Linked DNA regions of Homo sapiens. The main gene of each other region encodes a partner of the protein of the gene in region 4 in a complex. Each region holds a gene or a part of one and is shown on either strand. Other genes may lie near its edges. A codon is read from its position in the direction of its gene.

Region 1 (7,022 bases), on a different chromosome or scaffold from region 4:
ATGTACTTGGGCTCATAGCTAAAACCAAACAAGGCTGTGATATTCTAAAATGTCACAACTGGGATGCTGTGAGGCATAGTCGCAAACATCTGTGGCCAGTGGTTCCAGATGATGTGGAACAACTCTGTAATGAACTTTCATCTATCCCAAGCACTCTAAGTTTGAACTCGGAGTCAACCAGCTCTAGACATAATAGTGAAAGTGAATCTGTGCCATCGAGTGAGTATCCTGACAGGTTCATATAAAGTTAGCCAATGTTAACATTTATATTTGAATTTTAGAATTTAAATGTATTTGTTACATTTGTAATTTGCTTTTGTCTAAGATAATTATTTGGCAATAATAGCCTCTTGGAGAATGTGTATATTTTCATAACAAAGAGTATAATCACCAGCTTACATTTTTCTCTCTCCTTATATTCTAAGTAGCTTTTGAGGATTCCTACAAAGTTATGTAATAAGCCATGTGCCAGAAGAACCAGTCCTCCTTTTTTTGACAGAAAAGAAACAAATATAACAAGTATTTATTTGTCTACCTTCTTTATTTAATCTTTTTACTCATTTTTCAGATACTGAGATTGTTGAGCCAGAATATATTTTTAACTGATATTATATTCACATCTTCATTTTTGAGAGAAGCACTAAATTTTAAAATAGTGAAATTGTTAATAGAGTAACAAAAATAGTTATATATAAAATGATTTGTGGTTTTAAGTCCTGTGCTAAGTGGTGTTAGGTGTACAAAATTTAAGGCATGGTTCTTCCTTTTAAGAAGATAGTGTCAGCTTTATCAGACTGTGTATTTCACCAAATCTGAGATGCCATGAATTATGAAATATGCCAATATTTTATGTACCACAAAAGAAGAAGAAAGAAGAAGTGCTGCCTATTAAACTAGGACATACTACAAGATGCATATTGATTTTAGAATCAGATTCTGTGTGAAAATAGAAGGGATTAAATGTGAAAAGTGTGCATCTTAGAATTGACAAAATATAGAAATGGTAATGCAGTATGCAAATTCACTTAGGATTTTCTTTTACCTTCTTTGAAAATATATTTGAAGTATTTGTAATTATTCAACAGAAAAGTTAATAAAAGAAAAATCGTATAGATGTCATTAGGCACTCACTTGGGTTGCGTCTTCTAGTAGAATTGGGCACTAAATTTAATGAGTTTCTTAGTATCTAAGGTAAAATGAGAAATAAACATAATTTAAACATGAATTTATAATGTTACCACTTGGTTCTCTGTAAGTATATTTTAAGATTGGGAATTCATTTCTTACAAGGTGAATTTCTCCTGCTTATAGTAATTTAAAGAAGAACCACTAGGAATCTGTAGTAATTGAGTAAGCATCCATGGCCAAGTCTCCTTTTTCCCTTTAATTTCATCCTGAATATTTGGAGAATCAAAAGAAACTTCATGTAACCTGTGCCATAGTGGGTCTTATAATAATTTTTCTTTGGAAATAACAGGAGATTCTCATAAATTACATAATTTTACATTTTATTCAAGTCCAAACTCTGGGTTTCAAGAAAGATATTTTCAAGTAGCTGAATGGTTTAACCGTTTATTTTTAAATTTTTTCCTCTAGATGACTAAAAAAAAATTTCCTGAAATGTGATGTCACTAATAGTTATCATGAATTTGTCATTTTATATGTGTTTTTATTAATTGATCCTTCAATCATAGGTATGTTCATATTGGAGGATGACCGGTTTGGCAGCAGCTCTACTAGCACATTTTTCCTTGATATCAATGAAGATACAGAGCCAACATTTTATGACCGATCTGGACCCATAAAGGATAAAAATTCATTCCCTTTCTTTGCTTCTAGTAAACTTGTGAAGAATCGTATCTTAAATTCGCTTACTTTGCCTAACAAAAAACATCGTAGTAGCAGTGATCCAAAAGGAGGGAAATTATCATCTGAAAGTAAGACAAGCAACAGGCGAATCAGAACACTTACGGAGCCCAGTGTTGATTTTAATCATAGTGATGATTTTACACCCATATCCACTGTACAGAAAACATTACAATTAGAGACTTCATTTATGGGGAATAAGCACATTGAAGACACTGGTAGTACACCAAGCATTGGAGAAAATGACTTAAAATTCACCAAGAATTTTGGTACAGAGAATCACAGAGAAAATACAAGCCGAGAGAGGTTAGTAGTAGAAAGTTCAACGAGCTCACATATGAAGATACGTAGCCAAAGTTTCAATACAGACACTACAACAAGTGGCATAAGTTCAATGAGCTCAAGTCCTTCACGAGAGACAGTAGGTGTAGATGCTACAACTATGGACACAGACTGTGGAAGCATGAGTACTGTGGTAAGTACTAAAACTATTAAGACAAGCCACTATTTGACGCCACAGTCTAACCATCTGTCTCTCTCCAAATCAAATTCGGTGTCCCTGGTGCCTCCAGGTTCTTCTCATACGCTTCCTAGAAGAGCACAGTCCCTTAAAGCACCCTCTATTGCTACAATTAAAAGTCTAGCAGATTGTAACTTTAGTTACACAAGTTCTAGAGATGCTTTTGGCTATGCTACACTGAAAAGACTACAGCAACAAAGAATGCATCCATCCTTATCTCACTCTGAAGCTTTGGCATCTCCAGCAAAAGATGTGCTATTTACTGATACCATCACCATGAAGGCCAACAGTTTTGAGTCCAGATTAACACCAAGCAGGTAAGCAAATATATGTTTAGAAGTGACCAATAATGGTTGCATTTTAACAAATTTAAATACAAAATGTTAGCCAGGTTTTACACTATGTGAGCCTCATCACTGACCTATTATAATTGTTTACTATGGTAGGCTATAAGCTCCTTGTTACCCGATATGACTTGAAATGGATTCTTGCAGCTGCGAGGGGGGAAGAAAATCCTATAGGCCCTGAAAATAAACATACATGCTTTGCAAAGGACATACAAGTCACAAGCTTTTTTTTATTTATTTCTCGCTTCTGCAAGGATCGATTTTAAAAAGAAGCATGTCGGGGGAATCAGGAGCTTAAGACCTACAATAACAAACAACCTTTTCAGGTAGGTCAATTTAAGGCTCCAAAAGTTGACCTCTTTATTATTTTTTTAAAAAGATAAATGAAAATTTCAGTGAAATTATTTTCACTTTAAGTAGCTGTGATTATTAAATAGGAACCTAATAAACACTAAATGAAATACTTGGTCCTCATGACTCAGCAGGGATTTCTATACCATATTTAGATTATATCAAGCTAGTCAAAGTGAACAGTTTAGATTTTACTTTTAAAAGATACACAGTATTTGCTGCAAAAAAATTTTGTACCTATAATTTTTGTGGTTGGACCAAATGCTTCTAAACAACTTTCCTTAGTTTTAAATTATTCATTTACATTTATTTAAGTGGATTAATATATGTCAGGTACTTATATGTCAACAATATATGTTAGAATACTTTAGCACATATTAAGCACTCAATAAAAGTTAGCTATTTATCATCATCATTGGTAGTTATTTAATGTAATCCATCTAGCCCTTACATTATTCTTAATAACATTAAGCAGTTTTGTTTCAATAATGCTTAACACATTTAATAGAGGGTTTCTTGGTAGCAGACAATGAATTGTGTACCCTTACAGGATTTAAGAAATTATGCAGCAATGTCTCATCTATCTGGAACTCACTAGCTTTGGCAACCTTGTCCAGGACAAAGCCAGGGAAAGTTCTCAACAGCTCACTGTTACAAATCTATGCAGTAAAGTTCATGAATTTTGAACATTCCTAAGCCTCAGTTACCTCATCTGGTGGAGATTGCACTAGATCAGTGGTTGTAAACTTTTGTATTGTTGTTTTTTAAGCAGAGAAATTATTTTTTCACATAAAGATTTCTGTGGAAACCCAATAGGTAGAATAGATAGAAAGGGACCTATACTGGTTGAAATAGGAATTGGGAAGGGGAATAATCCAATAATTGTTTTCCTCCCACTCCAGTAATCCTTGAAGAGTTTTATGGGAACCAAAGAAATGTAACAGATTACAGTTTGAAAGAGTGTTTTTTGGGTGGAAATTAGGAGCATGGTTTTTGCTATGTTAATAGCTACTATTTAGAAAGCATTTCTTTTGTGTGTTTTACAAAATAATTATTTGATTTAATATTAGGCTGCATTCGTACATTTTAAAGACTTGGTTTTCCAAACAAAAATATCTTCATATAAATGTATATAAATGTGGAACCTTGCATAGTGCCTTGTATATATACAGCAGATACCAAGTAAATATTTTAGCATGTCTGTTGCATAAGTAAGAATCTGTATGAGAAACATGTATCTTATGGAAATATCAGTGTATCATATTTGTTATGGAATCTCTAGTAGTAAGGAGTACATTGTGGAAATATCAGTACATTGTGGAAATATCAGTGCTTTTTACAAGGATATCTCGTCATAAATGACCATTTTGCTCTTGTGTCTGTCTTGTGTGCTACATAAATCTTATGTTGATAATGAAGGCATTAAGGTAATTATCACACAAATAATGATATGTAATTGATCTCATTTTTTATAAATATAATATTAAATAGAGTTGATACACATATCCTTAGTTACATAAATGCCAAATCTAGTAGTCTCAAGTGATTATGAAGATAGTCCTTGGACCATGCTCTGACTACTGAGGTCAGTTTCTTTTTTTACTTCTAGATGTTGAAAGTTATTCTAATTGCCCACCTTTTCACCTTTACCTGAGAGACCATAACAGTTGTTTTTGGTAACAGTCAACATTACTGGTGACCTTTTACATAGCGGTCTATAACAGCTAATATTTTAAAGTGTTTATGTGTTGCCAGTAAACAAGATGACACTGCTTAATACATGACTAGCTACTTGTCTTTTATGAAGGTAGGAATATATGTTATTTCTTCATATGATTAAAATTACAGATCAAGAAACTAATGCAAGTGGTTTCTTTATGGTTTTATAGGTTCATGAAAGCCTTAAGTTATGCATCATTAGATAAAGAAGATTTATTGAGTCCTATTAATCAAAATACCCTGCAACGATCTTCCTCAGTGCGGTCCATGGTGTCCAGTGCCACATATGGGGGTTCAGATGATTACATTGGTCTTGCTCTCCCGGTGGATATAAATGATATATTCCAGGTATTATCATACATTTTATTGTTTTCCTATGAGTTGGTTTCCTATTTTTTCATATGCTGTAACTGCTTACTAGAAATCATAATTTAGGGTGGGCACCAGTTTGGGGCAGCATGATTTTTAAGACCGTTTTGTTTAAAGAAACTTTAAGATTAAAATTATTTTGCCCTTTTCAACTACTCTGTACTCTTTTATTTAGTCCTTAGAACATTATCCTTCCCTCTCTTCCCATATTAAATCAGTATCTCATTTGATTTCTTTATCCATATATTCTCTGTAGAAATTTATGAAATTTCTAACTTGTTTTTTAGTCACATTTAACTTATACCTCATTTTTAAATCCTCATTCCTATTTATCCCATAAAAGGTAGCCAGCCATATGTGGTACCCAGTAATATAAGGTGACCCTAATCCCAGGAGATACCCACAGATCTCTAGATGGTATATAGTACTAAAGAACACATTTTCTTAGAAGTTGAAAGACATTTTAGATAAACGCTAAAATAATTAATGTCCATTTAGTCACTAATAATATAATAAGGACTTTTTGGGTTATTTTGTTAAGTTTTGGTAGTTGAACCTTCAGTAAACTTGATTATAGGTTCATATGCTATGGTAATTCTATTTTAATTTTATTTTGTTTAATTTTGCTAATTTTCATAAAGTGGGCTTATTTTTATAGCAGGACTTACCATGGTTTATATCTTTTTTTAGGTAAAGGATATTCCCTATTTTCAGACAAAAAACATACCACCACATGATGATCGAGGTGCAAGAGCATTTGCCCATGATGCAGGAGGTAATGCATTGTGCATTGTACTTGTGAGATGCCTCTTTATATTAAAAAGAAAACTCTTAGTTCTTTCTAGTAGGATAACACTAAAAATTTAGGAAGACTCACTTTTGGATCAACTTTAAAATTATACCAAAACAATTGTTAAAGTCAGCTTAAAATTAAACCACATTTTTGTGTATGTGTGAGGGACTTAACAGTGTTTTCAGTGAAGTACTCAACCTTTCAAGGAAATAGAAACCAAATTAGTTGTTTCTGTTTTTTAAAAGTAGCACATGAACAATGTATAACACTAATCCTCATAGATCCAGGAAATAGCTGTTTGTTTAGAGTAAGGAGAAAGAAATGTACTTATAAAATACACGGTCTTTGTTTTGAACTGTTATATTTTAATATGTAAATATAAGCCACAGGTTTTATAGCTTTATATTCTTAATGACTTTTTAAACAAATGCCTCTTTATACTTAGAATTATTACATATCTTTAGGCAAATATTGACGATAATTGAAATGATGTATTATATAATCTCAATTTTCCATTTTGTATTTAAAACACTATATATTAAAATAATAAACATCTGCTGGCTTTCCTTATTTTTATAACTTAAAGCAAATTATTCTTTTTTTCTTTCCAGTTAGATTTTGAGTCATAAAATGTGCTTAAGCTTTCTTTAAAATTTCACATAATTTAAGGTACCTTGAAAAGTATTATCTTTATTGGATTATGTTTTATATTTACTTATGCACAGGTCTTCCATCTGGAACTGGAGGTCTTGTAAAAAATTCTTTTCACTTGCTACGACAGCAGATGAGTCTTACGGAAATAATGAATTCAATCCATTCAGATGCCTCTCTGTTTTTAGAAAGTACAGAAGACACTGGACTACAGGAACATACAGATGATAACTGCCTTTATTGTGTCTGTATTGAAATTCTGGGTTTCCAGCCCAGCAACCAACTGAGTGCAATATGTAGTCATTCAGGTAAGTGATCACGTCCCACCTTCAGAAAAACCTAGTGATGACTAAAGTTCTCTGGTTTACTTTTCCAAATTTCTTTTTGGTATTCTAATTCAGAGTTT
Region 2 (7,022 bases), on a different chromosome or scaffold from region 4:
TACAGTCCTATAAAACTCTACAAAATGTGCACTTTCACAATTTGCCACTTCTGAATAGGACCCTCCTATCATCCCCTGTAACACACCACCAAGCCTTGGACTCCATTAAGCAGCTCCTGAGTGCATGCAAAGAAGCTCAGAGAGCCACACTGCTGCCTTTTAGTCCCTTCAACAAAGTAAGCTCAGTAAGTGTTAACAACTGAACCACCCTATTTTCTTATATACTGCCTCGTTTCCTTTCTTAGTTCACTATACTCACCTACTTAGTTAGGCCTAACTAATACAGACAGTAATCTTTATATTAATATTAGCAGAGAGCAAAAATGATACGAAATCAATCATATAAGACTTTTAAATAAAACGAATATATTTATAAATTGATGCCACCCATAATTTAAACAGCGAAACTACACAAACTTAGGATTTCACTGTTACTTGTTATAAAGCAAATAATTTGACCAGTAGAGGGCACTCACAAAAGTGGGGAGAGCTTCACAGCCTTGAAGAGAAATGATTTATAAAATTGCTGTGTGTCTCTGATTTTAAAAACAGAATGTTTTAATAGAAGACTGGAGTAAGCTAACATATCATTAACGTACAAAAGTTAAAGTTTAAATCTTTGTTATACTTGAAAATCTAACATAAACCTTATGTCAGGGACATGAATTTGACAATTTAAAGGATGTTTAAAGCTACAGGTTAACATATCAAGGTTTGGATCTTAACACCATTGAGGTTTGGGGTCAGATAACCCTGTTGTGGGGGCTTTCCCGTGCACTGCAGGAAGTTTAATATTAGGTTGGTGCAAAGGTAACTGCAGCTTTGCCATTTAAAGTAATAGCATCTACTCAATAGATGCCAGTAGCAGTACTCTCTCCCCAAGTTGTGGCAACCAAAAACATCTCCAGATGTTGCCAAATGTCCCCTGGAGGGCAGTCACCCAACCATCCCTCATTGATTACTAAAGATATATGTATAAACTCAGAAGAATAGCAGCTTACAAATTACATAAGGCTTTTCTTATACCAGTCTTCAGTATCAGTTTAATTTTACAAATTTTCTCTCTATAATCTACATACTTCATTCGTAGGTAAAATGAATTCTACAATGAACATGGAAAAATAAAAATAAAATAAAAATTAAAATAAACCTTGGTAAATAAATACTCTACAGCTCAGAACACTAAAGATGAAACAAACCAATCCAATGATTAATCTGGTCTTCCTTACTGAATAGGAAACTGTTCCATCAAAGAGGGGCATAATACTTGAACTGAATTATAAGTGCCACAATAAAAGCATGCTGATGTCAAACAATTAGAGCCTGGGAAAAAATACTTCCTGCTATATTTATTCTTACTAGCATATTATATACAGTAGATACTTAATATATATTTGGTAAGTGATCAACTAATCATTCTGATCTCTGTAACTACCTACATTTTTTTAAAACGAGACTTTTCCTCTTCCACCAAATTTTACCTTAGAAAAAAAACTTCAGGGTTTTGATAATAAATGATCTCTGAACTATAAAGGTATATATTTCTAGCCAAGTATTGTGTTTGGGGGCTATTTTGAGTTTTCAATAATCTTGCCCTAATAACGAGGTATTTCATTATCTCTTTAGTGGGCTTCATAAAAGATAACAATATATACTTCACAATACAAGTAAAGGTGATTATGTGCACAGCCTCGAATACAAACATACTCCATCTATGTGTCATACCTGAATGATTTTACATCATACCTCTGCCACTAAGTTGCCATTAGATAGCAGGCTAAGTTCAAATTTTGGTATACTTACAAATCTGAATTAGTCTCCATTAGTAAATATTTTCTTAATTTGAAAGATAGCTAATTTTCAGTTTTAAAAAGTTATACAAGAGTACAGTGCAAATTCTACTTAACTTGGTCTCAGAGAATTTAAATTGAAATCCTACCACTTATTAGCTACGTATCCTTAGATGAGTTACAACCTCTCAGAGACATTATTGAAAGAAACAATAGCCACCCTCCTTACTATCTCTTAGTGTAAATTTTGAAAAATCTAAATCACCAAAAAATACAGTATTACTTGATTTAAATTTTTAAAAAATTTATTTCCATTTTAAATGTAGAAAAACTGCTAATAATTCCAAAATGTGCAGTCATATCCTTTCTAATTTTCTCTCTGACCCACACGGATTGGTAAATACCAATCAAAACCTGCAATGGCAGTGAAATCCCCATATCCTCCTAAATTTTTAACTTTTTACAATAACATGGAGTCAGCATTTCCATTTAACCAACTATTTAACTACTAAGTTCTCCTGCCTTTCTTACAGTTTAACTACACCAAGAACTTAATGTAATGTGTCAGTTCCCTCAGAGACTCACTGTAACTTGGGAGATAAGAGATAATCTCAGATACCTTTTCCCAGGTGACTAAACTACGTCAGGGACCGTCAGTTTCAAAGTTCACAGGTAACCAATGCTTCCCAGAGTCAAGTCTTCTGGTTTGGCAGAAATCATAAGCAGAGTTATAGGTTTAAGTTTATAAACTTTTTCAGCCTTCCGCCCAAATAAAGGCTTAACTGTTAGCTTTATTTCTTCAACATTTATATTGCATTTTAACAATCATTAGCAAAAGGTTTCCTAACCCACTTTATCACATTCATGACGTCATGCTGTATATACTCATATAGCACTCATGACCTCTGATTGGAAACAAAGTGTAATGGAATTTCTCAGATTTTCAGGGAAGACAGACAGCATTTCCAGTAAAATCACCTTCCAAAATCCCAGGAAAACTTTCAGGCATAAAGTGAATTATATTAAAACTTCCTTTTACATCTGATTTAAATAGTAGAGTCTGCCAAGTAACCCTGAATTTGCAATACAGATTAAAATGGGTGCACTATTCAAACCTCTTCAAAGAAACAAAACTATAGTACACATTGAATTAACTTGTCAAAAGTAAATATACAGAGACTATTGCATAGGCAGTCTACTTCAATTAGACTGTTCCCCTTTACTGCTGTAAATTCTTAAAATTGGAAGCCAAATAAAGTTGTTTCTATGTTTAAATCAAATCTTTGCAAATAGGCATTATTTCTCCACTTTTTTATAGTACCAAAAATATGTGACGTTTCCTTATGATTAGTTATCTAATCAATTCTCCAGGTTCTAAACTGCATAAATATCTTCCCAAGGCCACCCAATGCCCTCAGAACTTGCCTCAGCGCAAAGTGTCTCTTCAAGACACTACACAGTACAGTACGTTAATAAGGCACTTTGACCTGTTCTAGATTTCACAGCTTGGAACTTGAAGAAAGTTCTTAGAAATTTTTCAGAACTGATTTTTTTAAATTAGTACACTAGATGTAGAATAAATGCTAAAGTATTAGGACTGCTTAACCCAGGGTAAAGAAGCCTAAGAAACAATCTAACAATATAGGGCTATTTCAAAGACAAGGCGATATGCTTATTTTCCATCTCCACTGATGTTAAATTTAACATGAAGATCCAAATTACATGTAAAATATGCTAATAAATATGTTCTGAAAATGAGTTAACAAGGACAGTTGGGGAATGTCCCCTCCTGGAGGTCTTTGAGATTAAATAAATCCTCATCTGCTTGGGATGGAAGTTCTACTCCATGACCTTCAAGGTGTCTTACAGGTCTTTACTTATCATTCTGCTGCTGGTCTTTACTTTGGTAAATTTTCATTAAACTAAAAAAATCTGAAAATAATCCTCAAAAACATGATAACAATTTAAATTTACTCAAGGAATTTTTTTTTAAATCCTAGTATTTCCTTGAGTAAATTTAAAAATGACAACAAAGCAAAGGTAAAGTTGGTAATAGTACCTTTATATAAACCACACCTTAGGCAAATAATTCATTTTGTAAAATTTATCCGGTAGTTGTAGGTTCTCTAATGTTGAGAAGAAGATAGGAAAATACTGCTGATGAAGTTTAAAAAAATCAACCATCAAACAATTATATTTCACTAGTACAATTAAATCTAACCTTTACATATGATGTCACAATACCAAGAAACCCATAAAAATAAAAGTTACAATAAAAAGATTGTCTTTTAGGTCCAGATAGGATACAAATTTCTACCCTCTCACGAAACTCTGAAATACACTTCCAATCAAAATGCACAGAGAGTGAACATCATGGACCCTGACATACTCCCAAGGAAAGTAAAGTTCCCATATTAATGGTTACATATAACTTGAAACCCAAGGTACATTTCAGATAACTTAACTTTCAGCATAATTATCTTGTAATAAGTACTCATGAAAATGGTCAGAGAAACCTTTATCTGTATCAAAGAATGGTCCTGCACCAGTAATATGCATATTAAAACAAGATTTACCTCTATTGTTGGATCATATTCGTCCACAAAATGATTCTGAATTAGCTGTATCGTCAAGGCACTCTTGCCTACGCCACCAGCTCCAACTACCACAAGTTTATATTCAGTCATTTTCAGCAGGCCTTATAATAAAAATAATGAAAATGTGACTATATTAGAACATGTCACACATAAGGTTAATACACTATCAAATACTCCACCAGTACCTTTTAATACAAACTCACCTTTATATGAAAAATTATTTCAAAATACCTTACAAAATTCAATCATGAAAATTCCAGTTGACTGCAGACGTGTATCGTAATGAACTGTACTTCATTTACAAACTCCTCCATCGACGCTTAAGAAAAATGCATAAATGCTACATAGACAGTTCTTTTATCTTAAAATCAAGTTGTTCTATCTAAATAGCCAGACTGCTGTTCTGCGGCGGCTAAAGGCTCTCAAAGGATCATATCATGACTTCACTCATGTAGAGACTTCACAGTGCTCTACACCCTGTAGCACACCCTCACAAAAGTTGCTGACAGCTATCTCCACTCTTATTGTTACAGTTTTCCTAGTGGACCCCCACCTCTAAGTGTTAGAAGTCAATATGCAACAGCTACAGAAAAACTTTTAAAGCATCATGGCAGTAGTTCTCTTGGATAAATATTAACAGTAAGAATCAGATGAGAGTTGAGAGAATGAGTGTCAAATAAAGCTGGATTGTGTCATGGGGAAATAAAAATTTAAACACTGAGGCAAAGAAGAACAATATTTGACGACATTTTAATGTGTGAAATATCTCTGGGGAAAATAGGAGTCCGAGGTTGCAATGAGCCGAGATGGCGCCACTGCACTCCAGCCTGGCGATAGAGCAAGACTCCGTCTCAAAAAAAAAAAAAAAAAAAAAAATCTCTGGGGAAAATAAAGCTAAAAACCAAGAGAACTCCGAATTAACTGTTCAGTACAATACATAATCCTGTATCACCGCTGCACAAAAAAAGATAAAGATTAGAAAGCCGGGTGCGGCGGCTCATGCCTGTAATCCCAGCACTTTCAGAGGCCAAGGCGGGTGGATCACCTGAGGCCAGGAGTTCAAGACCAGCCTGGCCAATATGGTGAAACCCTCTCTCTACTAAAAATACAAAAATTAATCAGGCGTGGTGGCGCTCTCCTGTAGTCCTAGCTACTGGGGAGGCTGAGGAAGGAGAATCACTTGAACCCGGGAGGCAGAGGTTGCAGTGAGCCCAGATCACGCCACTGCACTCCAGATTGGGTGACGGAGTAAGACTCCATCTCAAAACAAACAAACAAACAAAAAGATTAGAGATAAACACTGTTTTTAGTAAGAAAACAGCTGTTAAGAGATGCAAGTGAGCCGGGCACGGTGGCTCACGCCTATAATCCTAGCACTTTGGGAGGCCGAGGAGGGTGGATCACGAGGTCAGGAGATCAAGACCATCCTGGCTAACCCGGTGAAACCCCGTCTCTACTAAAAATATAAAAAAATTAGCCGGGCGTGGTGGCGGGCGCCTGTAGTCCCAGCTACTTGGGAGGCTGAGGCAGAAGAATGGCGTGAACCCAGGAGGCGGAGCTTGCAGTGAGCCGAGATCACGCCACTGCACTCCAGCCTGGGCGACAGAGCCACTCCGTCTCAAAAAAAAAAAAAGATGCAAGTGAATATATCTCAGTAATCAGTAATCCATGTGACTGTTACTCTTTGCTTTTCATACACTGTCTCCCAAGAGGTGCATGAATATTGACAGATTGTATAACAAACACCATACAGAAAATAAAACATATTTTTTAGTTAGTTGTTTCAAATTTTTTGAAATAATATGAATGTTTAATTTCACCTCCTTTCCCTCATGTAACACATAATTATAAATAAGGAGAGAAATGCAGAAAAAAATGGGAGTAAATGCACAACTATTTATTATAGGATGAGTAGCTCCAAATTAATGAATGTGCATATATTGTAGATAAACACTAAATATACACAGCATCATAATTGACTGAAGACCCAAAATAATAATTTGGTTTCCCAAATGATAACATACTAACCTTACTCCTAAGCCCTGCCGCAAAAAGCACCACAGGCTAGAAAAATTGTATCACACACGGTCACGGCATAGTTCCCCGCCTTACTCTGCTCTACCTAGACTTATTGGCTGCTTGTCTAGGGTGAAGTTAACAACCACTACAAACATGTATCTTATCCCGTTTGCCTCCACGCTTTATTTCAAATGTAGGCCAAAGCAATTAGGAATAGATGAGGAGAATTACACTAAAATGTATCTTCTAGCTCTCTGCCTACCCCAACCTCCCCCCAACCAGTTTGCATAGCCTAAAACAGTTCTCAAAATGTGGTCTAGGAACCCCTCAGGTTACTAAGACTTTTCTGGTGTGCAAGAGGTCAAAACTGTTTTCATAATAACATTAAGATGTCCTTTACCCTTTTAACTCCCATTCTTTCACAAGTTTTCCAGATGTGTGATCATAATAGATTGAATGCAGATGCAGATATAAGAATCCATATCTTCTATTAAGCCACATCATTAAAGAGATTTACTGAAGTGTGAAACAATACCACTTTTCTAAGTTTTGGTTTTGTTTTGGAAAATAGTTATTTTTCATAAAATATTTTATTCATGTTACCAAGTAATGGGCT
Region 3 (7,353 bases), on a different chromosome or scaffold from region 4:
GGTGCCTGGCACCTCACCCAGCTAATTTTTGTACTTTTAGTAGAGACTGGGTTTCACCATCTTGGCCAGGCTGGTCTCAAACTCCTGAACTCGTGATCCACCCGCCTTGGCCTCCCAAAGCGCTGGGATTACAGGCATGAGCCACTGCACCCGGCCAAAAAGTTTTCTTTACTTTCCTTTTTTTTTTTTTTTTTTTTTAGATGGAGTTTCACCCTGTCACCAGGCTGGAGTGCAGTGGTACAATCTCGGCTCACTGCAACCTCTGACTCCCAGGTTCAAGCGATTCTCCTGCCTCAGCCTCCCGAGTAGCTGGGACTACAGGCGTGTGCCACCATGCCCAGCTAATTTTTGTATTTTTAGTAGAGATGGGGTTTCACCATGTTGGCCAGGATGGTCTCAATCTCTTGACCTCGTGATCCACTGGCCTCGGCCTCCCAAAGTGCTGGGATTACAGGCGTGAGCCACCGCGCCTGGCCTACACTTAGCTAATTTTTTTTAAGGTTTTTGCAGAGAAGAGGTCATCTTGCCATCTTGCCCAGGTTAGCCTCAAACTCCTAGGATCAAGCGATCCTCCCACCTCGATCCCCCAAAGTGCTGGGATTACAGGTGTGAGCTACCATGCCCAGCCAAAAGAAAATGTTACTAGATATGCTGAAAACCAGGAATTTGGCAGGTAAGGCGTAGAGGGAAAAGCATCCCAGACACAGTCAAGGGCTCAAAGGGGAGAACATGGCCAGGTGCTGTGGCTCACGCCTGTAATCCTAGCACTTTGGGAGGCCGAGGCGGCAGATCACGAGATCAGGAGTTCGAAACCAGCCTGGCCAATATGGTGAAACCCCGTCTCTCCTATAAATACAAAAAGGTAGCCAGGCGTGGTGCGGGGTGCCTGTAATCTCAGCTACTTGGGAGGAGTCTGAGGCAGGAGAATTGCTTGAACCCAGGAGGCAGAGGTTGCAGTGAGCCGAGATTGCGCCATTGCACTCCATCCCCGTCAGCAGTGTGAGATTCCGTCTGAAAAACAAAACAAAAGAAAACAAAAGAGGAGAACATGTCTCCTTTGGCCAGAGTACAGGACCCATGGAGTATTAGTCCATTTTCATACTGCAATAAAGAACACCTGAGACTGGATAATTTATAAAGGAAAGAGGTGTAGTTGACTCACAGTTCAGCATGGCTGGGGAGGCCTCAGGAAAGTTACAATCATGGCGGAAGGCGAAGCGGAAGCAAGGCACCTTCTCCGCAAGGCGGCAGGAAGGAGAAGTGGAGCAAAGGAGGAGGAACCCCTTATAAAACCATCAGATCTCTTGAGATCTCACTCACTATCATGAGAACGGCATGGGGGAACCTGCCCTCATGATTCAGTTACCTCCACCTGGTCTCTCCTTTGACACATGGGGATTATGGGGATTACAATTCAAGACGAGATTTGGGTGGGGACACAAAGCCTAATGGTATCACATGGAGAGGAGATGGAAGCCACAGGATGGGCCAGGGCCAGGGCCAGGCCCAGGAGTCTGGAGAGGGACAGGGACCCCTGAGGGCTTCTAATGGGGTGATCAAGTCATTCCTAGGTTTTGCTGGGGGTTTTTGTTTTGTTTTGAGAAAAGGTCTTGCTCTGTCACCCAGCCTGGAGTGCAGTGGCTCAACCACAGCTTACTGCAGCCTCGAGTTCCTGGCCTCGAGTGATCCTTCCACCTCAGCCTCCCAAAGCTGGGACCACAGGCACGCACCACCATTCCTGACTAATTTTTAAATTTTTTGTAGAGATGGGGTATCACTATATTGTTCAGGATGGTCTTGAACTTCTGGGCTCGAGTGATCCTCCTGCCTCAGCCTTCGAAAGTGCTGGGATTACAGGCATGAATCACTGTGCTGGGCTCAGACTGAGGTTTTTAAAAGGCCACTCTGGCCGGGCGCGATGGCTCACGCCTGTAAACCTAGCACTTTGAGAAGCTGAGGTGGGTGGGTCACTTGAGGTTAGGAATTCAAGACCAGCCTGACCAACATGGAGAAACCCTGTCTCTACTAAAAATACAAAATTAGCTGGGATGGTGGTGCATGCCTGTAATCCCAGCTACTCAGGAGACTGAGGAACCCAGGAGGTGGAGGTTGCAGCGAGTCGAGATCGCGCCATTGCACTCCAGCCTGGGCAACAAGAGTGAAAATCCGTCTCAAAAATAAATAAATAAATAAATAAATAAATAAATAAATAAATAAAAGGCCATTCTGCACTGTGGTGGACAGTTTGGAAGGGGGCCAGAGTGGCTGGGGCAAGGAAGGAGGCTTTTATGGGGGATGGGGGTGGTGAGCTAGAACCAGGGCAGTGGAAAGGACAGGAAGGTATATCACAGGTAAAATCGGTGGCTGAAGGGAAGGGAAGGGTGAGGGAGGGGAGGTGTCGGATCTTGCCCAGCTGTAATACAAGGTGGGCACTGCCCACAGAAGGGGAGCTACTCAGGGATGGGTTGTCTTGGCCCTGGAATATGGTGGACCCTGCGGGGCATTCAAGGGACAGTGTCTTAACAGGGAGCTGAGGCCATCAGAGCTGGAGACAGGGTGGAAGGGGCCCAGGACAGGGACAGCATTGGAAGCTCCAGAGCTAGCAGTCATCAGCCCCCTGGTATCTCGTGGGGTGCACAGAGTGAATGCTGAAGGGCCTGAGTCCTTGCGGGCAGGCAGGGAAAGAGACTAAATGTCGGGGACAGGAGCTAGGAGAAGGCAGCCTTTCAGGCATGGTGCCGTCAACCATGGCTCAGATGCGTCAAGAAGTGGGAGGGGGCCGGGCGCAGTGGCTCACGCCTGTAATCCCAGCACTTTGGGAGGCTGAGGGGGGCGGATCACGAGGTCACGAGATCAAGACCATCCACCATCCTGGCCAACATGGTGAAAAGTCTGTCTCTACTAAAAATAGAAAAATTAACTGGGTGTGGTGGCATGCACCTGTAATCCCAGCTACCCGGGAGGCTGAGGCAGGAGAATAGCTTGAACCCGGGAGGTGGAGATTGTGGAGAGCCGAGATCGCACCACTGCACTCCAGCCTGGCAACAAAGCGAGACTCCGTCTCAATAAAAAAAAAAAAAAAAAGAAAGAAGAAGTGGGAAGAGGCCGGGCGCAGTGGCTCACGCCTGTAATCCCAGCACTTTGGGAGGCTGAGGTAGGCGGATCACTTGAGGTCAGGAGTTTGAGACCAGCCTTGCGAACATGGTGAAATCCCGTCTCCACTAAAAATACAAAAATCAGCCAGGTGTGGTGGTGCGTGCCTGTAATCCCAGCTACTCGGGAGGCTGAGGCAGGAAAATCGCTTGAACCTGGGAGGCAGAGGTTTTGCAGTGAGTCGAGATTGCACCACTGCACTCCAGCCTGGGCGAGAAAGCGAGACTCTGTCTCGAGAGAAAAAAAAAAAAAAGGTGGGAAGAAGGAAAAGTATCCACTGGATTTAGCAAAGTGAGATTGTCAGTGACCTTGAGGAATTTCCACTGGAGAGCTAGAGAGCTGGGGGTAAAAGGCAGATGACTGGGGTTGCGGAATGAGTGGGAGGTGAGGACGTGGAACTAGAAAAATGGTGAGGACCGCTCTTTGAAGAAGATAATTTGGGATTGTTTTATGGTGTTTTTTTAAAGGCTAACCGGCAGGAAGGAGAGGAGGTGAAGGTATAGGAAGGAAGGCTCCATGGGAACTATGGCCTGGTCAAGGGACAAGATGCACCCCCTCTGCGGCCAGAGGAAGGGGTGCAGCCAGGTCTGTAAGAGCAGCAGGAAAAAACCATGCGACAGCCTGTCTCAAGGGTGAGGGCACCGGCGTGGAGCTCACAGAGCTGGAATGAGGGCCTGTGGTTTTGAGGGGGACCCTGGGCTCAGTGGGATGTCCTGAGGGTCAGGCTGGGGCTGGGGTGCCAGATCTAGCAAGTAAAACTACAGGATACCCAATAAAATTTTTTTAGCATAAGTATTTCCCATGCAATGTCCTGGATATACTTACACTAAAAAAAAAATTATTCGTTACTTGTCTGAATTCAAGTCCTGTAATTTTCAGCCAATCCTAGCCCAGCGTGGCGCAGTAGTGGGTCAGGGAGGGCACCGGAACAGCGCGACCCGACAGCCCGGGAAACGGACAGCCGTGTCAGAAGGGCAGGTGCCAGTGGGCAGGAGGCCGGAGAGAAAGCCGCAGCTTCCTTCCACCTCGCGCCGGGCCCGCGGCCGCGCACGGGGACCGCTCCGAGTTCCTCCCGGCGGGAACCCCCCGCCCCAGAACTTTGGTCTCGTCCCACCCACCCCCGCCCGCGCCATGGTCTCGCCCTAGGGAGCCATCGATAACTCTACGCTCGGCCTCGATCGACTCGCTCCGGCTCCCCTCGCCGTCCTGGACACGGCGGAGTGCGGAGCCGCCCGTAAGGTACGGAGGCCGCGAGCCAGGGGCCGGGAACCGGCTGCTGGGTGGCTGGGAGAGCACGGCCAGGGGAAGCCGGCCAGCAGGACGGAGCAAGGGCGGTCACCGGAGGAAAGGGGAGCTCGGGGGTCCAGCCAGACTGCGCCCTTTCCCATCAGGGCCTGCCGCTGGCCTGCTACGCATGCGCAGCCGCAGCGCTCGGCTTTCCCCGGCCCATCCGCCGCCTTGCGCACGCGCAGCCCGCCCCTGCGGCAGAGTGGCGCCCGCGCGTGACTCCCCCCTGCCGGCTGCGGAGGTGGGGGGGGGACGGCGCCCCCGCCGTGTGCGTGGGGCGGGGATGGAGCACGCGCCCTGGAGCCCCGGAGCCAGGTATCACGCGTGTGACGCGTGTCCCTGAACCTACCTGCGCTTCTTGTCCCAACTCTAAAATGGGAATGATAAGCGCCATTCGGCAGCGCCTTGTGGGTCTATAATCTACTTAGCACAGAGAGTGTCTTCTAAGTACTTCACATCCTTCTCTGCAGATGCTCTGACCTTTGACCCCTGCCGTTCAGCTCTAGGGCCCGTGCAGGCCACACCATGAACACCTCCCCAGGCACGGTGGGCAGTGACCCGGTCATCCTGGCCACTGCAGGCTACGACCACACCGTGCGCTTCTGGCAGGCCCACAGCGGCATCTGCACCCGGACGGTGCAGCACCAGGACTCCGTATCCTCCACCCGGGGCGGGCAGGGCGGCGCTGGGGGGATGCCTCGTGTGGGGACCACAGCCTGTGTGAAGGCCAGATGGTGGAGGCCTGGGGGGCCCTGGCCTCAGGGCTACCTTCCCGTCATCCTCCTTAACAGTCCCAGCAGGTGAATGCCTTGGAGGTCACACCGGACCGCAGCATGATTGCTGCTGCAGGTATCTGTGATCCTTGATCTCTAAACTCCTGAGCTCTGGTGGGTCGACCTCAGCACAGCCAAGCTTCAGTTCAGCCTGTGTCCCTAGGTTACCAGCACATCCGCATGTATGATCTCAACTCCAATAACCCTAACCCCATCATCAGCTACGACGGCGTCAACAAGAACATCGCGTCTGTGGGCTTCCACGAAGACGGCCGCTGGATGTACACGGGCGGCGAGGACTGCACAGCCAGGATCTGGGACCTCAGGTGCGGTGGGGAGGGGGCGTGCTGCCCGGGGCTGGGGTGGGCTGCTCTGGGAGACCGTTTTAGGTTGGGTTCTCTTCAAGCAGAGGCTGAGACAGGGAGCTTCCTGTGGGCGACTTACTGAGAGAAGTGAGGACAGGAGGAGAGTGAATTGCATCAGAGCGCGAGTCCTGCCTTGAGCCCGGAGCCAGCTTGTTATTCCCCTTCCACCAGCCACTGGCTTAGGCTCCCTGCTGGAGCAGAGGGCCCTGCGTCCCAAGTATTTCCCAAGAGGCAGGTCCTTCAGCAGAGGGAGGGGAGGAATGGCCAGGCCGAGGCCATCTGGGTAGGGCACCAACAAGCCCAGATGGACAGCATGTGCCCCGGCCCGGCCCGCAGGTCCCGGAACCTGCAGTGCCAGCGGATCTTCCAGGTGAACGCACCCATTAACTGCGTGTGCCTGCACCCCAACCAGGTGAGGGGTGCTCATGGGGCCAGGCACCCTGGGACTTTGGAGGGCTGGGCTTGGGCCCTGCCTCACCACCCCTGCACCCCAGGCAGAGCTCATCGTGGGTGACCAGAGCGGGGCTATCCACATCTGGGACTTGAAAACAGACCACAACGAGCAGCTGATCCCTGAGCCCGAGGTCTCCATCACGTCCGCCCACATCGATCCCGACGCCAGCTACATGGCAGCTGTCAATAGCACCGTGAGTCCTGGTGGCAGGTGCTGGGTGCGGGCAGCTTGGCACTCAGCCCTCAGCCTCTGCAGGTGGGCTTATTCCTGGATGTCCCTTAGCGGCCCCCTCCTGCTTTCCCCATCCCGGGCACTAACACCCACCTTGCCAGCAAAGCCAGAAGCCTTAGTGTCGCTCCCGATGGCTTAGTCCTGTCTGCAGGTCGGTCACTCCGCTTTCTGGAGTCTCTCCCAAGTCGATCCACTTCCCTCTTTTCACTCTGTTGCCTCCTGGTCCCAGTCACCCTTGTTTCTGGTGACGGCTGACACACTCTCTGAGGCTTCCTTTCCCCCTCCCTGACCTCCCCTGGCCCCTGACACGTTCTCTCTTGGATGCTTCTAGTGGTGCCTGGTCAGTATCAGCCAGGTGGCGTCATTCCCCTGAGGAGACCCGGGGCTGCTGGCCTCGCCCGTAGGCTGCTGTGGCGTGGCCCCTGCTCTTCTCTCCAGCCTCATTTTTTTTCATTAACTTCATTTAATCCCAGTGCATCACTTGTACCTCTTGCCCCCGGATTTCCCTTCTGCTGGCCTTTGTCATGCTGTCTCTCTAGCTGGTGCCCTTCTCCTGTCTACTTCCGTTGGCCATCGGCATCCTCCAGGAAGGAGAATTTGAGTCCTTGGCCAGGCGTGGCCTCCTGTTCTTGGCTTGCCAGGTGTGGCCCTTGCTTGGGGCCAGGCTTCCCAGGTGCCTTCTGCAGGCAGGACCAGAGGGGCCTGCCTGCCCCTCACCCGGGGTCCCCATGCACAGTTGGCCCCCAGTGTTGGCCCCCAGGGCATCCTTCCCTGTGTCTCAGACCTGAGGCCTTGGGCCCTCCGTGACGGTCCTCCTGACCTCTAGGGAAACTGCTATGTCTGGAATCTGACGGGGGGCATTGGTGACGAGGTGACCCAGCTCATCCCCAAGACTAAGATCCCTGCCCACACGCGCTACGCCCTGCAGTGTCGCTTCAGCCCCGACTCCACGTGCGTGCAGGGCCTGCTGGCCCGGGAGGGGACCTGCCTGGGCTGGGGGCTGGAGAGGGGAGGGGCTGCTGGATGGAGTGGCTGCTGCTGGACACGCCCCATGCCCACCCACTAGGCTCCTCGCCACCTGCTCGGCTGA
Region 4 (7,022 bases):
CTGGGGTGTGCTGAAGGGGAAAGTGACACGGCCTTGGACACACCACTAGGTCTCTGTTCCTAACTTTTAGTAAGACACTACCCTCGAAGCAAATGCACTCATTTAAACAAATGGCATAGTTAAAACTATTGACTAAGACCTAAACATTTCTTCTGAGAAATCGAACCATAGCTTTTCCAATCTGCCTGTTCAATATGGGAACAGATTTTAAAGAGAGTAACATAATCAATCCTCCGCCCCAAAGAATGGTCCATCATACCAACCATGATAAAGAGTACACCTGTTTATTAAAAGGAAAAACAGAAATGTACATTTTTGTTGTTTGCTTTAAGAAATTTGATCAAGTTGCAAGGAAATGTGTGGGCACGGCTCTGTACATCCTCGGGCAGGGTGGCAGGCATTGAAGGTGGCTGGGCGGCACGTGGCTCCTCTAGGGGGTGGTCTGACCCCCAAGCATCGCTTATCAAAGCCACTGCCAAGCAGACTTCCGTCCCATGGCAATGTCCCCAGCGCTCCCTCCTAGGGGGCCCCCGACACCTTCCCCGAGAGCCCACCTGCCCTGTGCCAGTGAGCCAGGGGCTGGCCTCCCCCCGAGGACTTCAGGACACCGGGTGGACTCTAGGGCACTTGGCCCTGGCAGGCAGGCTCTGAGCTACGGAACAGATTGAGGCTGGAGGCCAGTGTCACTGCTGCCCGGATTTCTTCTCCTTCTGGAAGCTGAAGCTCGTACGTCTGTTCAGTTTTCTTTGTTTTTGAGCAAAGTAGTCAGCCCGGGCAGTGCTAGCTCGCGATTCCAGGATGTAGTTAACCTAGAAACAAGAGCACACAGCCCGGTCACCTTGCCAGCCGCTCCCTACCCACCCAGGGCATCGGAGGGGGTGGCAGGGAAGGCCCTGACCTGGGCCGGGTGCCTCAGGGCCAGGTGCTGTCGTGTGGAAGGAGTCCAGTCATCACAGCAACCTGGCAGCGGCTGGGCCCAGAGCCGCTGCTCTACGATGGGAAAACAGAGGCTTGGAGAAGCCAAGTGGCCAGTCCAGGCTTCCCAGTCAGTGAGCGGCGAGCTCTTCAGGTTCCGGAGCCCATGCTCCCTCCTGGCGTGAGCCACTCCCGGAAGGCTGTGCCCTGGGCTGCCTGGCTATGCCTCCCACCTGCTGTGTGACCTGGACAAGCACATAACCTCTCTGAGCCTGCCTTTCCCTGTGTGAAGGCCGAGAACACAGGGATGAAAAGCAAACCAAGACAGGCTCTCCATCCAGCCTCCCACCAGCCAGGCGCAGAGCTTCCCACCACAGTGCTTCCTTCAGGGCTCATGAGTGCCCAGCCAGGCAGGGCTCACTTGACAAAAAGGAAAGAGGCTCAGAGAGGGAGGCCAAAGTGGCCTAGGCCACGTGGAAGTCAGGGTGAGAGCTGTGAGGGGGCTGAAAGAGCCCTGTGTGAAGGGCGGGGCTGCCTCCTGGGCTCCTCTCAGGCCTTCTGCACGCTGCTGCTTCCACGAAGCCCTGGGAGTCTGCCCGGAGTCGCATGTGCATCTTCCACTCTGTGTAGCAGCTGCACCGCCAGGCGCTTCCCCAGCGCTACAGCGCTGAGACTTGGTCCTGGCCCTGGGGAGCTTGCTGCCTGGTGAGTGGGTGTCCAGCAGCAGAACCAGCACTGCAGCAGGCAAAGAGGAGCATCAAGGAATGGGGCTGAGTATCAGGGAGGTGTGGAGGAGGGAAGGCTTCCAGAGGAAAAGAGTGAGCGGGCTTTTGAGGGATACACAGGAGTTTTTGAGTGCGCAACGGGGAGGAGAGACGCAGCATGCATCAAGGCACAGCAGGGGCACGCCACAAGGGAGTGTCCCTGGAACTGCGAGAGCTTGGCTGGCTTAGTGAAATGAGGTGGTGGGAGCCAGGGAGGGGTGCTACAGTGGGATGCACACGCCCCAGTGCTGAGGACAGCCTGTGCCTGGGCATGGGCGGCAGCAGCAGTGTGAAATCAGTGGTGGCAACTGGCACTGCTCGGAGTGCCTTTCAGCGCTCATGGAATCTTCACAATAATCTTGAGACAGATGCCACTGTCATCCCCATGCACAGGTGAGGAAGTCAAGGCCAATGACAATAATGTCATTTAGTCAAGGTCACAAAGCTAGAAGGTGTCAGGCGCTTGGCAAACACCCCTTCCTGCTCCGCAGCCTCTCACCTCCTCTGCTCCTCTGGCTGGGGCTTTTGGTGAACAGACGCTATTTCTCTTCACCTGCAAGTATCTAAAAGTTTTGACTAGAAGGCTGAATATTTCTGACAAGAGAGGCCAGCCACTGCCTCTGCTGATTCTACTCCGAGGGCCATGTGTCCTGTGCCAGAGGGAGAGGAGCTTCTGCTGACTCCGAGAAGGAACCAGAGGGCTCCCGGGGGAGGCAGCGCGAGATGGCAACGCCTCAGATGGCCGAGGCTTCAACACTGTCCCTCCCAACTTTCTGCTCTGCTGGTTGGAGCAGCAGGCGTTAAAGGCTGGTGCGTGAGTACAGAAGGCCTGACACGCTCTGCCCGCTGCCTCGCCAAGTTACCAGCTGAGAGCAATAAATCATGAGGACCGCAGGGCCAGGTTGATGATTTGGGACAATACAGTGTATGGAAATAAGAGGTTTTATCATTCTTAATACAAGAAATCTTTGGATTATATTGTTTGCACACTCAGCCAACCTAGTGTTTTCAGTGTATTTTTGGCACATATAACTTGACAAAAGCATTTTAAAATGATCCTTAACAAGCCAACTATTTCCCAAATTTATTATCTTCAGTGCTTTGTGATAATCACATAGATAATGTTAATGGAAGATTAATGTAATAATCAAAAGATAAAAACGCCCTTTGCTCTGCCATTAGCTGGTTAATATGCTGTGGCTTAAAACTGGCACAATTTTATGCACTATAGAGTGTTTCATTTTCAACGCATTTTACAGCTTAAGGCATAAAAATATAGGGAGTTTTCATGGTCAATAAAGCCACAGCCTCCATCACTCAATCACGAGAAGAACCTGATTTGAAGAGCCCGACAACTCCTCTGAGATTCATCTCAAAGCCTGTGGAATTAGGGACCACCCATGGCTTAGCTCAGTGACATCTTGATGGGAAGAGGGCGGCTCTGGAGCTTCTCGGGCCAGGTTCAAGTAGAGGCTCCACCCTTGTGTGCTCTGTGACCTTGGGCCTCCATCTCCTCTTCTATAAAATGGGGACAATGTCTACATTCTGGAGGGCGGTCAGGAAGATTAAACAAGATAATGGACATTAGATGTACTGCATGTAGCTGGTGTTCAATAAATGGGAGACGTTCCTATTTCTACAAGCGCAAAAAGCTCGATGGAGGCTTTGTTCATGATTGTTTATTTGACATCAGATTGTGGCTCTTATTTCCTCCCTTCAATTTCCATCTAAGCTCTCATTTTATGTAAAATTCCTGAATTCTAGAACAACAGCATGCATTACTAGAGTCTAAACTGACTCCTCAAGAGCTTCTGATGGCAACAACATTTCTCCCAAGCTCCCGGACACAGGGCTGGGCTTCCGTTGCTTGGTACTGGTGCAAAGCTCACAAAGACACACTCAGGACACTGCAGGAATGGTGGATAAAACTAAGTATTCCAATTGCTATAAAAATCAGAGATGGGGCCGGGCCTGGCGGCTCATGTCTTTAATCTCAGCACTTTGGGAGGCTGAGGTGGGCAGATCACTTGAGGCCAGGAGTTCGAGACCAGCCTGGCCAATGGTGAAACCCCGTTCTCTACTAAAAATAGAAAAAAATTAGCTGGGCTTGGTGGCGGGTGCCTGTAATCCCAGCTACTCGGGAAGCTGAGGCAGGAGAATCACTTGAACCCGGGAGGTGGAGGTTGCAGTGTGCAGAGATCACACGACTACACCCCAGCCTGTGCAACAGAGTGAGACTCTGTCTCAAAAAAAAAAAAAAAAAAAAAAAAAAATCAGAGGTGGGAGAAGTACTATCTCATCTTCCATCAGGCTCATGATCATTAGCTCTAAGTAAATCAGGCCTAGGGTATGCTACAACTCTTCTGGAGTCTTGTGCATGACACAATATTTCTGCAAATATTTTGATATGGAAACAGACACTTTAGGGAAGGTGACAGACCTCACGGATTTTGCAGAGAAGCATCTGCTTCGAGGGAGCATTTGGACCTGTAAAATGATTTCTCTGCACTTGATCTTCCACAGTCTCATACTGAAGTCATAAACCTGTGTTTCTGTCATCAATCTGCTGTTGTGAAAATTATTTTGATGTCAAACATGGGATTATAATTTTACTAGAATCCTTCTCAAGTCTTGAATATTTTAATGCTGGCTATAAAAAAAAAAAAAAAAAGTCCAGCCCCTATCGGGGTAATGGAATATTTCTCTGCCAGGTCCCTGAACACTCTGCACAAGGGGCCCGTGCTGTCTGTGATGCTCCAGTGGGTAACTCGAAGCTCGCTGGCTGCAAGCACTCCCAGGCAGGCCCGTGTCCCCACTCCTTGGTCCAAGGAGGGGCTCTGATCAGGCTGGTCTATGAACCCTCTCCCTTTCATCCAGCTAATCATGCTACTCTGTCTGCTCCAAACTGTCCTTCCAGCTGCTCTTTTAAATTGCTACCTACTCCTTTTGAAAATCTTTTGCAGCCATGGGGAATGTGTCTCAATATATTCCTGGATCGCAATTCTATTTCATTGAAATCTCCCACACAACTCTTAGGTCATGCATATCTGGGGAATTAAAACACAAGTCTGAAATCTGTCAAATCTGGGGGCAAGTTCTGGTTCTGCCAACTTACCAGAGTCATGATCCTGGCTCTGCTACTTTATTCCTGATCCTCACTTTTCATCTGGGAAATGGGAACAACTTTATCTCATGATCTCACAGAGCTGTGAAGATGCACTGTGATGGGACACGTGGAGCCTCTGGCCCAGGTCCTGCACTGTGCAGTCCCTCAGCATATCTTCGCTACTTCTGCTATTATGTGATGACTTCAACTCTTCAGAAGAGACTGAATGATAACTTACATAGGTTTACCATGTCTCATCTGATTTGTACTCTAGCAGCCCTGGTGGGGTGGGGTAGCATAGGTACTATGATCCCCACTTTACAGGTGGGGACACTGAGTCCCAGAAAGGTGATGTGACTAGCCAGGGTCACACAACTAGGGGTGGGGGAGCCCTCTCTGGTCCTCGCCCCTGCTCTGCCACAGCAGCTGCTTTTCCTATCTGATCAACCTATGGAAGATTTGGCTTGAAGAAAGGATTCTCTGCTTGGGAGAGGCTGAGACCCCTAGTCCAGGGCTACTCAGAGTGTGGTGCCCAGACCAGCGGCCAAAGCAGCATCTGGCGCTTCTTGGAAACGTATGATCTCAGGTCCTATCCCAGACCTCCCAAATCCGCAAGACCCCTGGAGGCTCCCATGCCAAGCAGAGCTCCTCTCAGCCACACTCCACTCTGCAAGGCCCTGCACGGCCTAGCCCCGCCAGCCCCGCCAGCTCCCCCAGCCCCCCCAGCCCCCCATCCCCCTGTGCCTGCCTTGCCTCAGCCCATTCCCAGGCTGCCTGTCTGTGGTGCTTCCTCTCTCTTTACCTGGTCAACATCTGTGCCTTTTCAGTCATCCTTCAGGGTTCAGCTCTCCCTGCCTCCATACCTCCACCCCAAGTCAGTTTACTGTGACACACCCACACCTTTGAGACTAACGATCTCTTTGTAATTTTGTGTTTTATGCCTGTTTCCTCTGGTAGAGGAAAAGCTCTCCAGGGGCAGGGACAGAGTCTGTCACCGTGGCATCCCAGGCCGTGGCCAGGCACACGGAAGGTGCTCAGTGAGTATACTGTTTAGGTATGGTGACATACAAGTCTAGCAGAAAGTTAGGTATGTTTAGAACAGGTTGCTAAAATCACCTTCAGCATAATTATCTTCAAAACAATAATAATTTCCTCAGAGTCTGCTCCAGGAGCTTCAAGGAGCTCCTGACAATGGTTGCAGGAAAATAAACAGTACATAAAAGGAATAAACAAATACAGGAAGAGCCAGGGTTATTGGGATTGGGAGGAAACTGAAAAGGGTCCTGCTTTGACTGAAGCAGGTGCAGAGCAGCTGAGCGGGGGCTGGTGTGGCCCTGGCACAGGCACTCACCCCTGGGTGGCTGGCAAGCTGCGACACTCCTCCTCTGCCAAACTGGGCCCGGGAACCTTCTATAGAGCTGCGGAGTGGGTGGGGCTGCGGCCATGCCGCAAACAGCCTGAAGAGAAGCTGGACCCACCTACCCTGTCTCTGGTTCAAGAAGGAATACTCACCTTGAGCACAATTTCATTGACGGTAGCAGCGTCCGATTCAAAGTAGAGGTGTTTATAGTCGTGATTGCTTAGATACGTGAGTTTAAATATTGCGTGACCTGCAGAGACAGAAAACTGTGTTGAGGGGTTCTGGTGAGTTAACTATGGCGGGGGCCTCCATATGTTCTCCCCTATCATTCCAATTCGAGCGAGAGCAAGTGGAGGCTGAGCAGCACCTAGTCTTCCCAGGAGTAGTTCGTTTTCTCATTACAGGCTGGGTATAAAATGGACAATGAAAAAATTTTAAAGACTCAACAGCCAGTTAGGTCCCATTCCACTCTGGAATGCATTCAGGGGAATGCCACGTTAGGAAGGCTTTACGGAACTGCTGCTATATGATAATTACATGCAAAAGGTGGCGTTTTTAAGGGAGAAGGCTAATTAACTCCACATTATTACTCTAAAAATAAACTAACTGTTTAAAGTCAGATAAATGAGCAACAGGAAGGAGAAGGGTCAAAAGCCACACTATTATGAGGCTGCTCCACAGCCTGGGCTCCTGCTGGGAGAGGACTCCTGCCTGGAGAGGGAGAATCCCAGTTTTAGACCCTGCTGGAAGCTGCTCCCAAAGGCCTCAGGTCATCTCAACCCTGGGAGGATGGGGGCGGGGGGGGCACCATGGAAAGTGGGCACCTCACAAAGCGACCGACTCCAGGGGGCAGAGCTTCTGAATATAAATCTGATCT

The links.
Region 1: the proteins of MAPKAP1 (region 4) and RICTOR are in contact, whole or in part, in a cryo-EM structure (PDB 7PE7), measured with the Homo sapiens proteins. Residues at the interface, in NP_001006618.1 of Homo sapiens: Ala2, Phe3, Leu4, Asp5, Asn6, Pro7, Ile9, Ile10, Leu11, Ala12, His13, Ile14, Arg15, Gln16, Ser17, His18, Thr20, Ser21, Asp22, Asp23, Thr24, Met26, Cys27, Met29, Val30, Leu31, Ile32, Asp35, Val36, Ser84; in NP_689969.2 of Homo sapiens: Arg108, Gln137, Glu140, Thr144, Leu147, Arg148, Arg151, Lys152, Thr155, Arg182, Met183, Arg185, Ala186, Ala189, Cys192, Glu193, Leu196, Leu220, Arg222, Ile223, Glu225, Ala226, Leu227, Thr229, Thr230, His233, Asn236, Arg293, Trp295, Glu844.
Region 2: the proteins of MAPKAP1 (region 4) and KRAS are in contact, whole or in part, in a crystal structure (PDB 7LC1), measured with the Homo sapiens proteins. Residues at the interface, in NP_001006618.1 of Homo sapiens: Phe280, His287, Gly288, Phe289, Ser290, Leu291, Ile292, Gln293, Lys307, Lys310, Arg311, Arg312, Lys313, Gly314, Ser315, Phe363, Glu365, Ile369, Val374, Met377, Leu378, Ser380, His381, Tyr484 (codon at 803), Glu487 (codon at 794), Ser488 (codon at 791); in NP_001356715.1 of Homo sapiens: Ile21, His27, Val29, Glu31, Asp33, Pro34, Ile36, Glu37, Asp38, Ser39, Tyr40, Arg41, Leu56, Glu62, Glu63, Tyr64, Ser65, Ala66, Met67, Asp69, Gln70.
Region 3: the proteins of MAPKAP1 (region 4) and MLST8 are in contact, whole or in part, in a cryo-EM structure (PDB 7PE8), measured with the Homo sapiens proteins. Residues at the interface, in NP_001006618.1 of Homo sapiens: Lys102, Cys103, Lys104, Asn105, Ile106, Gln107, Trp108, Lys109, Arg111, Asn112, Ser113, Lys121, Leu123, Phe124, Glu125, Lys126, Lys127, Ser128, Leu129, Gly137, Lys138, Gln139, Ser140, Ile141, Leu142, Val144, Arg145, Leu146; in NP_001186102.1 of Homo sapiens: Ala29, His30, Pro77, Ile78, Ile79, Ser80, Tyr81, Asp82, Gly83, Arg98, Arg110, Ile111, Trp112, Gln120, Cys121, Gln122, Arg123, Ile124, Asn139, Gln140, Ala141, Leu157, Lys158, Ile203, Glu206, Ser279, Gly280, Asp281, Gln283, Asp322.

The regions. Positions count from the first base shown.
Region 1 is NC_000005.10:38,945,393-38,952,414, reverse strand, and holds part of RICTOR (rapamycin-insensitive companion of mTOR), read left to right. Parts: coding exon 1-219; intron 220-1,694; coding exon 1,695-2,703; intron 2,704-2,987; coding exon of another isoform or gene 2,988-3,059; intron 3,060-4,973; coding exon 4,974-5,151; intron 5,152-5,862; coding exon 5,863-5,947; intron 5,948-6,690; coding exon 6,691-6,924; exon of another isoform or gene 6,925-7,022. UniProt on the Homo sapiens protein: Component of the mechanistic target of rapamycin complex 2 (mTORC2), which transduces signals from growth factors to pathways involved in proliferation, cytoskeletal organization, lipogenesis and anabolic output.
Region 2 is NC_000012.12:25,240,908-25,247,929, forward strand, and holds part of KRAS (GTPase KRas), read right to left. Parts: intron 4,489-7,022; 5' UTR 4,478-4,488; coding exon 4,367-4,477; intron 1-4,366. UniProt on the Homo sapiens protein: Ras proteins bind GDP/GTP and possess intrinsic GTPase activity. Plays an important role in the regulation of cell proliferation.
Region 3 is NC_000016.10:2,201,121-2,208,473, forward strand, and holds the start of MLST8 (target of rapamycin complex subunit LST8), read left to right. Parts: upstream 1-4,333; 5' UTR 4,334-4,392; exon of another isoform or gene 4,393-4,567; coding exon of another isoform or gene 4,568-4,755; intron 4,756-4,910; 5' UTR 4,911-4,940; coding exon of another isoform or gene 4,941-4,965; coding exon 4,966-5,094; intron 5,095-5,237; coding exon 5,238-5,289; exon of another isoform or gene 5,290-5,358; coding exon of another isoform or gene 5,359-5,376; coding exon 5,377-5,539; intron 5,540-5,914; coding exon 5,915-5,990; intron 5,991-6,072; coding exon 6,073-6,225; exon of another isoform or gene 6,226-6,904; intron 6,905-7,089; coding exon 7,090-7,214; intron 7,215-7,329; coding exon 7,330-7,353.
Region 4 is NC_000009.12:125,438,204-125,445,225, forward strand, and holds part of MAPKAP1 (target of rapamycin complex 2 subunit MAPKAP1), read right to left. Parts: intron 6,396-7,022; coding exon 6,298-6,395; intron 810-6,297; coding exon 684-809; 3' UTR 1-683. UniProt on the Homo sapiens protein: Component of the mechanistic target of rapamycin complex 2 (mTORC2), which transduces signals from growth factors to pathways involved in proliferation, cytoskeletal organization, lipogenesis and anabolic output.